Regions from separate parts of the Homo sapiens genome. Here region 2 is linked to region 1. Evidence: fine-mapped expression QTL. Tissue or cell type: hypothalamus. Region 1 holds a variant in brackets; the other region holds the start of a gene. All regions are shown on one strand. Distances are between the middles of the regions.

What was found. PIP is the estimated chance that this variant, and not a neighbour inherited with it, causes the effect.
Region 2: TPRG1L starts here. The variant in region 1 is fine-mapped to the expression of TPRG1L in hypothalamus (GTEx, PIP 0.98).

What each region holds. Positions count from the first base shown.
Region 1 is chr1:3,798,577-3,806,679 of GRCh38, reverse strand. No RefSeq gene overlaps it. Among named protein-coding and RNA genes, the nearest start is that of LRRC47, 6.1 kb to the right of the region's middle. The variant C/T (reference allele first, on the strand shown) is at 4,757.
Region 2 is chr1:3,620,121-3,628,208 of GRCh38, reverse strand. TPRG1L (tumor protein p63 regulated 1 like) reads right to left here and starts at 3,194. Exons shown (of 5, transcript NM_182752.4): 1 at 2,936-3,194; 2 at 2,694-2,785; 3 at 2,320-2,496; 4 at 556-709. The coding sequence starts at 3,136. It also overlaps a transcript of MEGF6 not described here. RefSeq lists enhancers at 2,158-2,820, 3,801-3,920 and a silencer at 3,121-3,350.

The sequences.
Region 1 (8,103 bases):
AGTGACCAGAAGACGATAGTGCGAGCCTTCTGTTATGCCCAGACAGGGTCACCAGAGGGCTCCTTGGTCTAGCGGTAACACCAGCGTCTGGGAAGATGCCCGTTGCCAGGCAGACCGTGGTCTAGCAGTAGCATCAGTGTCAAGGAAAAACACCTGCTACTTAGGAGTCTCCCTTTCCCTGGGGGAGTTTAGAGAAGACTCTGCTCCTCCACCTCTTGTGGAGGGCCTGACATCAGTTAGGCTCGCCCGCAGTTATCCGGAGGCCTAACCGTCTCCCTGTGATGCTGTGCTTCAGTGGTCACGCTCCTAGTCCGCCTTCATGTTCCATCCTGCACACCTGGCTTTGCCTTTTAGATAACAGTAGCAAATTAGTGAAAGTACTAAAAGTCTATGATAAGCAGAAATAATGGCGTAAGCTGTCTCTCTCTCTCTCTCCCCCTCTCTCTCTGCCTCGGCTGCCAGGCAGGAAAGGGCCCCCTGTCCAGTGGACATGTGACCCACATGACCTTACCTATCATTGGAGATGACTCACACTCTTTACCCTGTCCCTTTTGGTTTGTATCCAATAAATAACAGTGCAGCCAGGCATTCGGGGCCACTACCGGTCTCCGCGTCTTGGTGGTGGTGGTCCCCCAGGCCCAGCTGTCTTTTCTTTTTATCTCTTTGTCTTGTGTCTTTATTTCTACAATCTCTCATCTCCGCACATGGGGAGCAGAACGCACCAACACTGTGGGGCTGGTCCCTACATCCGGCGCTCCAACGTGGGGCTCTCTCTCGCTGTGTGAAGTTGCACCCTGAGTGTGGGATTCAGCAGAGGATTTTGACCAGAGATTCCTGAGGATTGTGGTCAGTAAGCTTGGTGGTAAGCTAGAGCACTCAGAGTATTCCGGGGACACCATGGGACAAGCCAGTACTAAGTACTCAGCTTATTTAAGCTTTATAAAAACCCTCCTGTTTTATCTCAACCCTGTCCCTGTTCAGCCCTGCTGTAGGGGTCTCAACCTTCTGCCTGTTCCGCCCGGTAATGAGGCCCTCAACCCTATCCCTCCATAGCCTGGTTTTCTCATGCCTGTTTCCTTTCCTCCTAATCAGACTCGGTTAGAGTCACAGGCTCCCTTGAAACCTGGTTCCTTTCCTACTAATCCGACTCCCCTGGAGTCACAGACTCCTTTGAAGCCTGGTCCGCAGTTGCCACAGCAGCCTGAATTTCAGGCCCATGAAGGACGTGCTCGGCAGGTAATCTCGTCTACCCTTGCTGCTCACAAGCAACAAGTTACATAGATTCCTCAAAATGACACTCCTCTTATGAGGGCTATAGCACAGGCAAGAAAATATGGGGATCCCAACGCCTGGCAATTTCCTGTAATTTTACAACCTCCAATACCTGCCGTCCCTGCGGCACAAAATCAGCCACAGCCTGCTGATCTTACTCAGCAGGCAGCTGATCTCGCGGCACCTTCACGCTCCGTGTTAATATCTTGTTTTTCTGCAGGACAACAAACAGTTGCAGCAGCCGGTTTGGTTACTGCGCCCCCTCCACAAAAAAAAAATCCAGACTTCTTCTCCTTATCACTATTTAGCAATGCAGCTAGAAGTCAGGTTATTAAGCCCAAAAAAATCATTGTTCCCCTCACCCGATTAGAAGTTCAACAGGCTTTTGCAACCTGTATCACTTGGCAAGTACACTTGGCAGGTTTCTCGGGTATAATTGACAATCACTATCCTAATGTAAAATTATTTCAGTTCCTTAAACTCACTTCTTGGATTTTACCTAACATTACTAGAAACACCCCATTAGCTGAAGCTGTCACTGTTTTTACTGATGCTTCCTGTAATGGCCGAGCAGCATATACAGGTCCCAGAGAACGTGTTCTTAACACAGGGGCTATTTCAGCACAACGAGCTGAACTGCCTGCTGTTATGACCGTCTTTGAAGATTTCCCTGAACCAGTTAACATTGTCTCTGACTCAGCGTATGTAGTACATGTTGCTCGCAACATTGAAACTGCCTTAATCCAATTTCTGCCCGATGATAACCTATTCTTTCTTTTTCAAAGGTTTCAGTCTGTGCCCAGAGCAAGGTCTTCTCCTTTCTACATTGCTCACATTCGGGCCCACACACCCCTCCCCAGACCCCTCTCGGCAGCAAATGCCAGAGCTCATACATTAGTTCCTCCCGTTTTTACAGATGCAGAAAATTTTCATGCTTTAACACCTGTCAATGCTGCAGGACTCCGGAAAAAGTTCCCCTTACATGGAAACAAGCTAAAACCATTGTTCGTCACCGTCCTACTTGCCAAGTGTTAATCTTACAGCCACTTTCCTCAGGAGTTAACCCTAGAGGACTTTCACAGAATGCTCTCTGGCAAATGGACGTGACTCATTATCCTGCTTTTGGCAAGCTTTCTTTTATACATGTAACTATCGACACTTTTTCTCATTTTATCTGGGCCACTTGTCACGCAGGGGAAAGTACAGCTCATGGTAAACGACATATGCGTTCCTGTTTCTCCGTTATGGGCTGTCCCGAGAAACTGAAAACTGATAACAGCCCCAGCTACACTAGTGCTGCTTTTAAAAAGTTCACTGAGACGTGGGCAATTGCTCACACAACCAGCATCCCCTGTAACTCTCGAGGACAGGCCTCGGTGGAACGAGCCAATAAAACACTGAAAGGTCAACTTCGAAAGCAGGACATAAAACAAAGGGGGATGGCACCACACCTCATGCTCAGTTAAACCTGCCTCTTTTTACACGAGCTTTCTTACACCCAGCAAGAAACCAAACTTTACAGCCACAGAACCACATGTCACTGGAAATAAATTTGATCCACAAAAACGAATGCGGGTATGGTGAAAGGACGCAAAAACTAACAAATGGGAATTAGACAGAGTCATAACTTGGGCTAGGGCTTTCGCTTGTGTTTCCCCAGGAAAAGGACAACAACCCGCGTGGGTTCCCTCCCAGCGACTGAAATTGCATTATAACTCCAAGGATGAGGCACTCTGAGAAACAAAAGGACTGCCAGCCTGCTCCAAGAAACCTACAAAGGGGCCTTTTTTCTTTTTTTAACTAAATTCAATCTTATGAAATGATTCTAATACTCCGAAGGCCATACTGTTCCAAACCCTACCTACGGGTGTTGTTATTGACTGGGCTCCAAAAGGGCATTATTGGCGAAATTGCTCCACCCAAAATACAAAATGCTCGGAGTTTAACTATTTGTTAGATTATATAGAGGATGGGCCGGGCACAGTGGCTCATGCCTGTAATCCCAGCACTTTGGGAGGCCGAGGCGGGTGGATCACAAGGTCAGGAGATCAAGATCATCCTGGCTAACACAGTGAAAACCCGTCTCTACTAAAAAACAAAAAATTAGCTGGGCGTGGTGGCAGGCGCCTGTAGTCCCAGCTACTCGGGAGGCTGAGGTAGGAGAATGGCGTAAACCCAGGAGGCAGAGCTTGCAGTGAGCCAAGATCGCGCCACTGCACTCCAGCCTGGGCAACAAAGCAAGACTCCATCTCAAAAAAAAAAAGAAAGAAAAGAAAAAAGATCATATAGAGGATGGATGGCAGTCATACAGGTTGAGACAATGGGTGTCTCCTTACCCATTTAAATGGATGGACGCAGGCATTGTTCCCCCTACACCAAAAATGATTCATCCCATTGTTACCCCAGAACATCCTGAATTATGGAAATTGCTGCAGCTATGACAGGAATAAGGATACGGAACACTACCTATCAACTCCTTCACACTAATACCAAAACACACACATTCAACATCACCTTGATATCTGAACAGGTGATACCCATCAGGAGCTGTGTCAAACCCCCTTACATGCTGTTGGTTGGAAATATAATTATCATTCCCAGTACACAAACTGTAGAATGTGATAACTGTCAGCTGTTCACATGCATTGATGCTACTTTCATTCCCACTACAAGTATTCTCTTGGTACGGGCTAGGGAGGAGGTATGGATACCAGTTTCTCTACATCGTCCTTGGGAGTCTTCCCCCTCTATTCACATAGTCAATGAAGTTCTTAAAGTTATCCTCAAAAGAACAAAGAGATTTATTTTTACTCTTATTGCCGTCATTGCAGGTCTAATTGCAGTTACTGCAGCAGCAGCAGCTGCTGGAGTTGCCATCTACAATTATGTTCAAACCGCTCAATATGTTAAAGCACGGCAGAAAAACTCCTCCGGACTTTGGAATTCTCAGGCTCAAATTGATAAAAAATTAGCCAATCAAATTAATGATCTCCGTCAAAGTGTAATGTGGCTCAGAGACAGAGTTATGAATTTGGAACACCTTATGCAATTACAGTGTGATTGGAATACTTCTGACTATTGCATAATGCCTTATGCTTATAATAAAGGTCAACATAGCTGGGAAAAGGTCTCAAGACATTTAAAAGCCTGGGATGATAACTTAACCTTGGATATTTCAAAACTTAAAGAGCAAATTTTTGAGGCTTCACAAGCTCATTCATCCACTGTTCCTGGCTCAGACATTTTTGAAGGAATAACTAAAGAATTATCTGATCTTAATCCCTTTAAATGGATCAAACCCCTTGGAGGATCATTGTTGTCACTGGCATTATTAGTATTGGTATGCTTATGTTGTCTCCGTTTAGTCTGCAGATGCCTCCAAGGAGTCCGAAAACAAGTCCGAAGTCAATGACAAGCAATGATGGCGATGGTGATCCTAGTTAATATAAAGGGGGGAGATGTGGGCAGCAAGCCACCCAGGTGC[C/T]GAGGCAAGAGACTGAGGGCACGAGCTGTTCCAGTATAATAAAATATATAAAACAACAAGAGTTATGCTAGATCTAGATCATAGACATGATTATATATGAATATCATTAATCATTAGTTTGTAGCAATTACTCTTTATTCCAATATTATAATAATCCTCGCTCTATAATCATAACCTAGGAAAAAGCAGGCCATATAGAGATGGGAGCTGAGGGGACATGGTGAGAAGTGACCAGAAGACAAGTGCGAGCCTTCTGTTATGCCCGGACAGGGCCACCAGAGGGCTCCTTGGTCTAGCGGTAACACCAGCGTCTGGGAAGATGCCCGTTGCCAAGCAGACCGTGGTCTAGTGGTAGCGTCAGTGTCAAGGAAAAACACCTGCTACTTAGCAGACCGGGAAAGGGAGTCTCCCTTTCCCCGGGGGAGTTTAGAGAAGACTCTACTCCTCCACCTGCATCTGTAAAAACGGGAGTAACTAATGTATCAGCTCTAGCATTTGCTGCGAGAGGGGTCCGGGGAGGGGTGTGTGGGCCCAAATGTGAGTAATGTAGAAAGGAGAAGACCTTGCTCTGGGCACAGACTGAAACCTTTGAAAAAGAAAGAATAGGTCATCATCAGGCAGAAATTGGATTAAGGCAGTTTCAATTGTTGTGAGCAACATGTAGTACCTACGCTGAATCAGAGACAATGTTAACTGGTTCAGGGAAATCTTCAAGGACGGTCATAACAGCACAAATCTCATCTTGAATTGTACTCCCATAATTCCCACAGGTTGTGGGAGGGAGAAGGTGGGAGGTAATTTGAATCATGGGGGCAGTTTCCCCCACACCGTTCTCAAGGTAGTGAATAAGTCTCATGAGATCTGATGGTTTTATCAGGGGTTTCTGCTTTTGCATCTTCTTCATTTTCTCTTGCCACCGCCTTGTAAGAAGTGCCTTTCACCTCCCGTCATGATTCTGAGGCCTCCCCAGCCATGTGGAACTGTAAGCCCAATTAAACCTCTTTTTCTTCTTAGTCTCAGGTATGTTTTTATCAGCAGTGTGAAAATGTACAAATACACCTAGTGAGGAGAGGGGCAGCCTATCTTGCTACTTTCTGACAACCAGATGGACCTAGTCTTGGCCATTGGGATGCAGACTGTGCCTAAGCACCCTCAGAGGGGGGTGCAACACTAAACAGAGACACAAACACAAATAGATCCAATGTAGACACAGCCCTCCAAACAGATCCCTCCAAACAGAGGGGAGATTGGAGCAAAGTCCTGAGGTCCTGTCCCAGACCCAGACAGCACCATGGAGTGACCTGCGTTAGGTCCAGATGGCACAGAGACCCAGGCAGCACCACAGAGTGACCTGCGTTAGGTCCAGATGGCACAGAGACCCAGGCGGCACCACAGAGTGACCTGTGTTAGGTCCAGATGGCACAGAGACCCAGGCGGCACCACAGAGCGACCTGCGTTAGGTCGAGATGGCACAGAGACCCAGGCGGCACCACAGAGTTACCTGCGTTAGGTCCAGATGGCACAGAGACCCAGGTGGCACCACAGACTACCAATACTAGCTCTAGACAGCTAGAGCCCCAGATGGCAGATGCAGAGGATTTCCAGGTGCACTTCAGTTCACATCCCACATACTGCTTCCCTCCCACCAGCAGAGCATGAGAGATGCTGATGTCATGAAGGAGAGGGAAGGGAAAATCCCCAAGACAAAGGCAGTCTCGGCAGCCACTAGGAATTCCCTAAGGTCCTAGCCTTGGGGTCAGCTGGCCATGAGCAGCTGGCATTTTCAAGCAGCTGCTGTCCTGCCTGACAGCAAGAGTGGGTAAATCCTGGGACTGCTGTGGCCAATCTCTGCCTTCATTGGAAACCAGGTACACAGGCTGAGCCACTCACAACACAGTGCCTCACACAAGGCACCAGATCTGCAACCAGCTCAAGCGTGGCTGCTCAAAGACCAAAAACATGAGAAGCGAGGTGTGGTGGAAGGAAAGCCGTTTATTAAACAAATGCCAGCCGATGGGACATGGCTGGGCTCATGCCTCCAAGAGACCCTCTGTCTTCTGGGCTGAGTGAGAGGTTTTGGAAGGAAAACTTGGTGTGGGAAACATGTGGGGGTGGTGCAGGAGGATGCAGAAGGGTGCAAGGGGGTGCAGGGGGGTGCAGGGCTGCATGTCTTGTTCCGAAGGTGATCTCGAGTAACACCCTGTCTGAAGGTCCAGCTTGCATCATCCTGACTTTGGCCCAGTAGTGGTGGGCTCACTCTTCCTAACTGCCCCAGAGCAGTAGGATCCACATCTGGGTCTCTGAGCCTGGTTTCCTTCAAAATTAGCCCCTGGAAGTTCTTTTTTTTTTTTTTTTTTTTTTTTTTTTTTTTTTGAGATGGAGCCTCCCTCTGTTGCCCAGGCTGGAGTGTAATGGTGCAATTTCAGCTCAGTGCAACTTCTGCCTCCTGGGTTGAAGCTCCTGCCCTAGCCTCCAAGTAGCTGGGATCACGGGCGCCCACCACCCCACCTGGCTAATTTTTGTATTTTTAGTTAAGACGGGGTTTCACCATGTTGGCCAGGCTGGTCTTGAACTCCTGACCTCAGGTGATCCGCCTGCCTCAGCCTCCCAAAGTGTTGGGATTACAGGAGTGAGCCACCGCGCCCGGCCTGTAAATGGTTTTTGTTTTTTTCTTTGTTTATTTATTTATTATCAGAGTTGATTCTCTCCTGGATCAGGAAAAAGGCCTAGCAAAGCAAGGATACTATCTTCAGAATGTGGATTTCCCCCACAATAGGCAGCCTTGCAGGATTGTTTTAAGATACAGCAAGGAAATATAATTTGGGGTAAAATACTTCAATTTCCTTCAGGGCCTTGATCAGTCACATAATGCTCTACTAGAAACAGGCTAGAATTTGGTATCATTGCTACAAAGAGTCAGCTTTGTCAGTCTTTTATTGTTGTTGTTATTTTGAGATGGAGTCTCGCTCTGTCACCCAGGCTGGAATGCAGTGGTGCAATCTTGGCTCACTGCAACCTCCGCCTCCTAGGTTTAAGCAATTCTCCTGCCTCAGCCTCCCGAGTAGCTTGGATTACAGGCGCCCGCCACCATGCCCAGCTAATTTTTGTATTTTTAGTAGGGATGGGTTTTCACCATGTTGGTCAGGCTGGTCTCAAACTCCTGACCTCAAGTGATCCACCCGCCATGGCCTCTCAAAGTGCTGGGATTACAGCCATGAGCCACCACACCTGGCCTGGCTTTGTCAGTCTTAAAGTCTGTGTTGATATTAATGATGGTCAGGTGGGCCTGAATTCCCAAAGGGAGGAGAATATAATGAGGCATGTCCAACCCCTACCCCTCCACATCC
Region 2 (8,088 bases), 180 kb after region 1:
AATCTTGCCACCATGCTCTCCTGTGGCCAATGGCAGCCAGCACCTGCAGAACCCTTCCTGTATACAGGGCTGAGTGGCTTTGCCGTCACCCAACCTACCAGGTCAGTAACCAGGCCGAGGCACACAGCTGGGGAAGTGCAGGACCCCCGCCAGGCTCTGGGCTCTGGGCTCTGCTCTAACCCCAGCCCCGAGGCCTCCTCTCCTGGTGCGCATCCGCACTGGTCATCTGGCACGGCTGGGTCTGCTGCCACTCTCTGAAGCCCAGCTGGGGCCCTTCCCCACCCAGATCACCATCAGGAGGCCACATTATGGAGCTATGCTAACCAGCAGCCACTGGCCACATGCGGCTACTTTAACATAAATTAACCAGAATTTCTGACAACTTAGGGAATCAACTCTAAAATGAGAGCTTCCTCTCTCATTTCTAGCCACGTCTCAAGTGCTCGGCAGCTCCGCGTGGCCGCCGGACAGTGCAGACCTGAAGTGTCTCCGTGACTGCGGGGGGTGTTTCCATCACTGCGGGGGGCGCGGCTATTTATGTGCCTGTCTTCTTACCTGACACAGAGATGCTGTCTTCTCATCTGCGCCAGCCATCGGGTGTTCTGTGAAAGTGGCATAGGGCACGTTGGTAGACCAGGGATTCCATCTGTTTATGAAGGAAGGACGACTTTGCTTGTCCCACTGAATTCGAATCCCAAAACCTTCTCGCCTGAAAAGTCAGAAGAAATAGCCAGACTTAGCATGGCAGGCCACAGTGCTCTCATGGACAATCTGACAGTCTCATCAGTTAGGAGAATATGACAGCAAAAAGCACACGTTTACAGAAAAGACCTATGACATATCACAATGGAAAACGGCTTGTAGTTTTTATTTTTGTTTTTATTTATTTTTATTTTTTGAGATGGAGTTTTGCTCTTGTTGCCCAGGCTTGAGTGTAGTGGCCTGATGTTGGCTCGCTGCATCCTCCACCTCCTGGGTTCAAGCGATTCTCCCAACTCAGCCTCCGGAGTAGCTGGGATTACAGGCATGCACCACCACACCCAGCTAATTTTGTATTTTTAGTAGAGACAGGGTTTATCCATTTTGGTCAGGCTGGTCTCAAACTCCTGACCTCAGGTGATCCGCCCGCCTCAGCCTCCCAAGGTGCTGGGATTACAGGCGTGAGCCACCGTGCCTGGCCGGCCTGTGGTTTTTAGTAGTAACTTCAATCTCCACTAACAATTGCTTTAAATACTGTGGGTATAAATATGACAAATTAGGTATATTTTGGTTATTAAATGTATTATTTTGGTAATCTTTACATGATTAAAAATTAATAAACAGGAATACTGGCTGGGCACGGTGGCTGACATCTATAATCCCAGCGCTTTGGGAGGCCAAAATGGGCGGATCTCTTGAGCCCAGGAGTTTGAGAACAGCCTGGGCAACCTAGCAAAACCCCATCTCTACAAAAAATACAAAAATTAGCTGGGTGTGGTGGCGGGCACCTGTAGTCCTAGCTACTTGGGAGGCTGAGGTGAGAGGATCACTTAAGCCTAGGAGGTGGAGGATGCAGTGAACCAAGACTGCACCACTGGTGCCTGGGTGACAGAGTGGGACTCCGTCTCAAAAAAAAAAAAAAAAGGGAATAATTATAGATAGGCTAGCCAAATGAGTGAAAAGGAAGTGTAATCTTCCTTTTCCTTATGTCATATTAAATGTTTTAACCAAAAGGTAAAATTTTTATTTTAGCTTCCTGAATCCCCCATCCAAATCTCTCCATCAAAAACCCAAGTTCTACAGCTTAACTGACTGTAGTAATGTTTAGGTTCCTCACGTCAGAAAATTATCCTACAGCAAAAAGATCAACTCCTGAAAGCTGGTCATTAAATATTTCCAAATTTGTCTTTTAGTGGTATCTATAAATTACAACGGGACCCTCCATTTCTCTTTAAAAAATTAGCCAGAGCAAGACTTGATGTGTCATATGCAATCTGTCCCTGGCTGGAGAAAAATGCAGAGTTTGGACTTTTCCTGAAGAACATCCAAGTTCCTTTTTAACACGCTGGGCTCTACTTCAATGCATCCTGAACTCATGTAAGTCTTTTTACTACCAGCCTAATAGCTGCCTTCTGTGCCAGAATTCCTTTTAATGCACTCAATTGCCCAGAAGTCGCTTCTTTTTAAGGAACTTCCCATTGATATTTGGAGCTGGAGCCTTTGTGCTTATAATTAATGACAGAGAAGACACACCGCTTGGGGGGCTGATTTAAAAGGGCTGAATTGTAAGGTCCACTCTGGTGCTTAGGTCCAGTGATACTGGACTCTGAACAGGCTTACTTGTTGAGCGATTTAGGGGGAAACTGGAATTCTCCGTAGGAAATGGTGTCTACTGCGTTGAGCGCTATCCGCACCACCTGCTGGCACTGGAGACTGATGAAGTCGTATTTACAGATAAGCAGGGACTGCTCCGTGACCAGCACCAGCCGCTCCTTCTCATTGTTCCAGTGATCCACCCTGTAGGCAGAGGAGGGGCCTCAGTCCACACTGGACGCGGCTGTCTCGACTTAGCCAAGGCCAGCCCGCCTGGAAGGGCAGCAGGGGCGGCACGGGGCGCCTGAGCGTGGCACGAGCACCCCGGGAAGTCCTCGCAAGGTGCTGCGCGGCGGCTCGGGGCGAGTCCCCCCACCAAGGAGAGCGCAGCCCCGGCTTACTCGGTAAGCAGCCACACTCCCTGGATCTCGCCGTCCTCCACGGGCCGCACCACCACGCGGATCTCCTCCACTGCCTGCTCGATGCTGCCGGGCTGGGCGGGTTGCGGGGTGGGGGACGGGGGCAAAGATCACAGGTCACAGCTCGCTCCCTGCGGGACCGCCCGGCGCCCGCCTCCGACCCCACCCGCCCCCATCCCGCCCCGCGCCCTCGGCCCCCGCCCCGGCCCTGGCCCCTGCCTCACCCGGAACACGAAGTACTCCTTGACGCGGGCGCGGCGCGTGGGGTCGTGGATGCTGAGAGGCCAGAGTGTCTGGCGCAGCGGCGTCCCCGCCCCCGGCCGCCCCCCGCCCGGGCCGCCGCCTGCCCCCACCTCCTCGCCGGCCGCCAGCACCGCCGTGGGGCTCGTACCGGCCGAGTCCACCGAGTCCCGCAGTTGCAGCATTGCCGCACCCCTTACCGACCCCGACCCTGACGCCGACGCGACCGCCGTCGCCGCAGCCACCGCCACCACCCGGCCGCGCCCCCGGCCCCGCCCCGCGGACCGCCGCGATTGGCTCCGCCTTGCCGGCCCCGCCTCTGGCTCCGCCCCTTCCCGCGTCCGCCGACCCTCGGGATTGGCTCTCCTCCTGCCGTTTTCCGCGATTGGCTCTGCCCCGCCGCCGTTCACAATCGCTCCCGCCCCTCGCCGGGCCGGAAGCGACCGTCACGCGCAGGCTCACTTCCTGTTTACACAACGAGAAGGGGCGGGGCCGAAGCCGGTTGCCAGGGTGTCGCGGAGCGGCTGGGAAGGAGGGGCTGGGAATCTTGGAGCCCCTTGGCCCGCGGGGAAAGCGGGTGACCCGCCCTGCAAGTGGGATGCCCCCTTCGGCCTTCTGGAGCGCAGGTGGGGGCGCGCGCCCATCGGGGGCTCGCACTGCACGGAGGGTCGCGGTGCCGGGGAGCTGAGGTTGGAGGATGCAGGGCGGCGGCCCTGGTGCACCGTGGGGGAGTTCGCACGCCGGGCAGCGATCTTCTGCCGGGACCTGGCGTTCTTCACACACGGCTTATTCGTGACGGATCCACAGAGCAATGCACTCTGAAGCCGGAGGGTAGAAAGTGCTGGAATGCGCGCCCGGGCCCAGGCTGTCGCGAGCCTTCAGCAAGCCAGTGCACACAGAGAGGGCTGCCCAGAGATCCCGGTCAGCGCTCGCAGTTCGAGGTGGAACATGTGTGTGCCCTGCGCTAGCCCCAGCTCCCGGAGGTGCCCCCAGCGCGTGTGGAGGGGGGCGGTGAACGGACCCGCAATCTGGTGGAGGCTGCGGGAAGGAGGCGCAGAGTCCAGGGGTCAGGGTTACCTTCGGGCAGGAGGACAGATCCCTCTGCTCGGAGGTGAGGAAGACACACGAGGCGAGGTGCACACAGGCGAGGAGAGTGAGATGGGGGGAGAATGAGGAGTTCAGGATACATCTGTTTACTTCAGTCAGGGAGTGGGGATGGAGCGGAGTATTTGTAAAGATGGACGGTTTAGAATCGCCGGGATGAGAACCGGGCAGGGAGCTGATCAGGGAAGGGCATGGGGATCTCTGAGCAGCTGGGAGACCCCAGGGAAGTTTGCAGTGGCGCCTCCCACGCGGCAGCTGGGGGAGTGGAAGAAACCAATGCTGGCTGGTCTAGATGGAGGAGTTTGCTGGGTAGCGGTGGTCAAAGACCAGAGAGAAAAGGGAGGCCAAAATCCTAGAGGGAGTGTTGCCCAAGAATGGTGGAGTGCAGGGATTCTGCCCCACTTGCCAGCAGACAGGCCAGGCTGCCAAAGTTGCATGGGCGCTGGCAGAAAGACCCAATACCCCTGGAGTCAGAGAGGAAAGACTACAACAGGAAACGGGCGACGCTGGTGTGCCCAGACGCATGTTGCACCACAGCGGGTGCACTACAAAACAGGACCCTGGATCCTGTGGACCAATGTGGTCTTTGTCCCACAGGGAGGCTGTCTCCCCGGCAAGGGTGCCCACTGCAAGCACAGGCGTGAGAAATGGCCCAGAAAAGAGTGGTCAGGGCAATGTGTTCTTGGCACGCCCAGCAAGACCTGCCAGAGGGACCTACAGACGAGTGTCTCCCAGCTATCTTACCAGCGGGGACCTTGAGGTCCAAGTATCCAGTCCGGTTAGAAATGGCCGCGGATCCAACAGGTGCTGGTGAGTGGGAGAATACCCCTGAGGGAGGAAGAACAGAGGCCGGGAGGGAGCTGAGTGGATGTAGATGAGAAATACCTGGACAGCTGCAAGCTGTAGTCAGTGATGGGCAACTGGAACCAGAGATTCCAGAGAGAGGGAGGGAGAAAGAGGGAGGAGAAGGGAGAATGAGAAAGAGAGGGAGAGAGAATGGGGGGGAGAAAGAGGGAGAATGGGGGAGAGAGGTAGGAGCAAGTTCTGGACCACGCCAAGGATGGAGCTGTGGTCCTGGAACCAGATGTCCAGGGAATGGGATGAAGTGACACTGGCTGGGGCCGAGGCTGCAGACTGCTGGTGGGAGCTGGCAGGACAATGAGGATTCTGAACCAGGTGCCTGAGCCTTCTGTGGATATGGGGAGTGACTTGGATGTCTATAAATTCCAGAAATGATAGGAGGGATAGATGATGGAGGGACTGTATTTTAGACAATAAACAAATTTCACTCAGTATGGATGAGTTTCCTGGGGCTTCTGTCACAATGCATCACAAACTGGTTTTAAAAACAACAACTGTTTTAAAAACAACAGAAACGTGTTTCCTCATAGCCCTGGAGGCCAGAAGTGCAAAATCAAGGAGTGTGCAGGGCCATGCTCCCTCTGCAGCCCTGAGGGTTGACGCATGTCTTGCTCTGCCAGGCCTGCTTGGTGTCCTGGGCTTGCTCATGCACTGCTCCCATCCCTGCCTCCATCTTCACACGACCTTCTCCAGGTGGGTCTCTTCTGCAACATCCCTGTTGGATTAGGGACCACCCTAGTGACCTCATCTTTAGTCGATCATCATCATGTTTGATCAAATAAGGTCACTGTGTTTGTTTGTTTTCCCACTGCTATTAATATGAAGAACTTACCTGAAGCTGGGTAATTTATAAAGAAAAGAGGTTTCATTGACTCACAGTTACACATGACTGGGGAGACCTTAGGAAACTTACAATCATGGCGGAAGGCAAAGGGGAAGCAAGGCACGTCTTACATGGCGGCGGGGGTAGTGGGATGTGCCACACTTAAACCATCAGATCTTGTGAGAACTATGACAAGAACAGCACGGGGGAAATCGCCCCCATGCTCCAATCACCTCCCACCAGGTCCCTCCCTCGACATGTGGGGATTACAATTCGAGATGAGATTTGGGTGGGGACACAGCTAAACCATATCATTCTACCCCGGCCCCTCCTAAATCTCATGTCCTTTTTACATTTCAAAACCAATCATGCCCTCCCAACAGTCCCCCAAAGTCTTATTTCAGCATTAACTCAAAAGTCCACAGTCCAAAGTCTCATCTGAGACAAAGTCCCTTCTGCCTATGAACCTGTAAAATCAAAAACAAGTTAGTTACTTCCAAGGTATAATGGAGGTACTGGCACTCGGTAAATGGTCCCATTCCAAAAGGGAGAATTTGGCCAAAACAAAGGGGCTAAAAGCCCCATGCAAGTCCAAAATCTAGTGGGTTAGTCATTATATCTTACAGCTCCAAAATAATCTCCTTTGACTGCATGTCTCACATCCAGGGCCACACTGATGCAAGGGGTGGGCTTCCAAGGCCTTGGGAAGCTCTGCCCCTGAGTGCCTACGGCTTTTCCAGGTGCAGGGTGCAAGCTGCTGGTAGATCTACCATTCTGGGGTCTGGAGGACAGTGTCCCCCTTCTCGTAGCTCCACTAGTCAGTGCCTGTGGGCAGCAAGCCACCCCGGTGCTGAGGCAAGAGACCGAGGGCACGAGCTGTTCCGGTGTAATAAGATATATAAAATAACAAGAGTTATACTAGATCTAGATCATAGATATGATTATATGTAAATATCATTAATCATTAATTTGTAGTAATTGCTCTTTATTCCAATATTATAATAATCCTCGCTCTACAATCATAACCTAGAAAAAACCAGGCCGTACAGAGATGGGAGCTGAGGGGACATGGTGAGAAGTGACCAGAAGACAAGTGCGAGCCTTCTGTTATGCCCGGACAGGGCCACCAGAGGGCTCCTTGGTCTAGCGGTAACACCAGCGTCTGGGAAGACGCCTGTTACCAAGCGGACCGTGGTCTAGTGGCAGCGTCAGTGCCAAGGGAAAAGCACCCACTACTGAGCAGACCAGGAAAAGGAGTCTCCCTTTCCCCAGGGGAGTTTAGAGAAGACTCTACTCCTCCACCTCTTGTGGAGGGCCTGACATTAGTCAGGCTTGCCCACAGTTATCTGGAGGCCTGTCTCCCTGTGATGCTGTGCTTCAGTGGTCATGCTCCTGGTCCGCTTTCATGTTCCATCCTGTACACCTGGCTCTGCCTTTTAGATAGCAGGTGCAAAATTAGTGGAAGTACCAGAAGTCTCTGATATGCGGAAATAATGGCGTAAGCTGTCTCTCCTCTCTCTCTCCGCCTCAGCTGCCAAACGGGGAAGGGCCCCCTGTCCAGTGGACATGTGAACCACGTGACCTTACCTATCATTGGAGATGAGTCACACTCCTTACCCTGCCCCCTTGTCTTGTACCCAATAAATAACAGCGCAGCCAGGCATTCGGGGCTGCTACCGGTCTCCGCGCCTTGGTAATAGTGGTCCCCCAGGGCCCAGCTGTCTTTTCTTCTATCTCTTTCTCTTGTGTCTTTATTTCTACGATCTCTCATCTCTGCACATGGGGAGAAAGACCCACTGACCCTGTAGGGCTGGTCCCTACAAGTGCCCCAGTGGGGACTCCGTGTGTGGAGGCTCCCACCCCACATTTCCCCTCTGCATTGCCCTAGCAGAGGTTCTCCATGAGGGCTCTGCCCCTGCAGCAGACTTCAGCCTGGACTTCTAGGTGTTTCCATACATCCTCTGAAATCTAGGCAGAGTCTCCCGAAGTTCACCTCTTGTCTTCTGCACACCTACGGGCTCCGCCTGGGCTGTCCCTTGACCCCTTTTGGCCCTGACTGGAGCTGATTTTGCCCCCAAGGCCTCTGGGCCTGTGATGGGAGGGTCTGCCGTGAAGCTCTCTGAAATGTCTTGGAGACATTTCTACAGCTGATGGCTTGAATTTCTCCCCCAGACAATGGGTTTTCTACCACATAGTCAGGCTGCAAATTTTCCAAACTTTTATGTCCTGCTTTGCTTTTAAACATAAGTTCCAATTTCAGATCATCTCCTTGTGAACGCACATGACTGTACACTTTCAGAAAAAGCCAGCTCACATCTCAAATGCTTTGCCGCTTAGAAATTTCTTCTG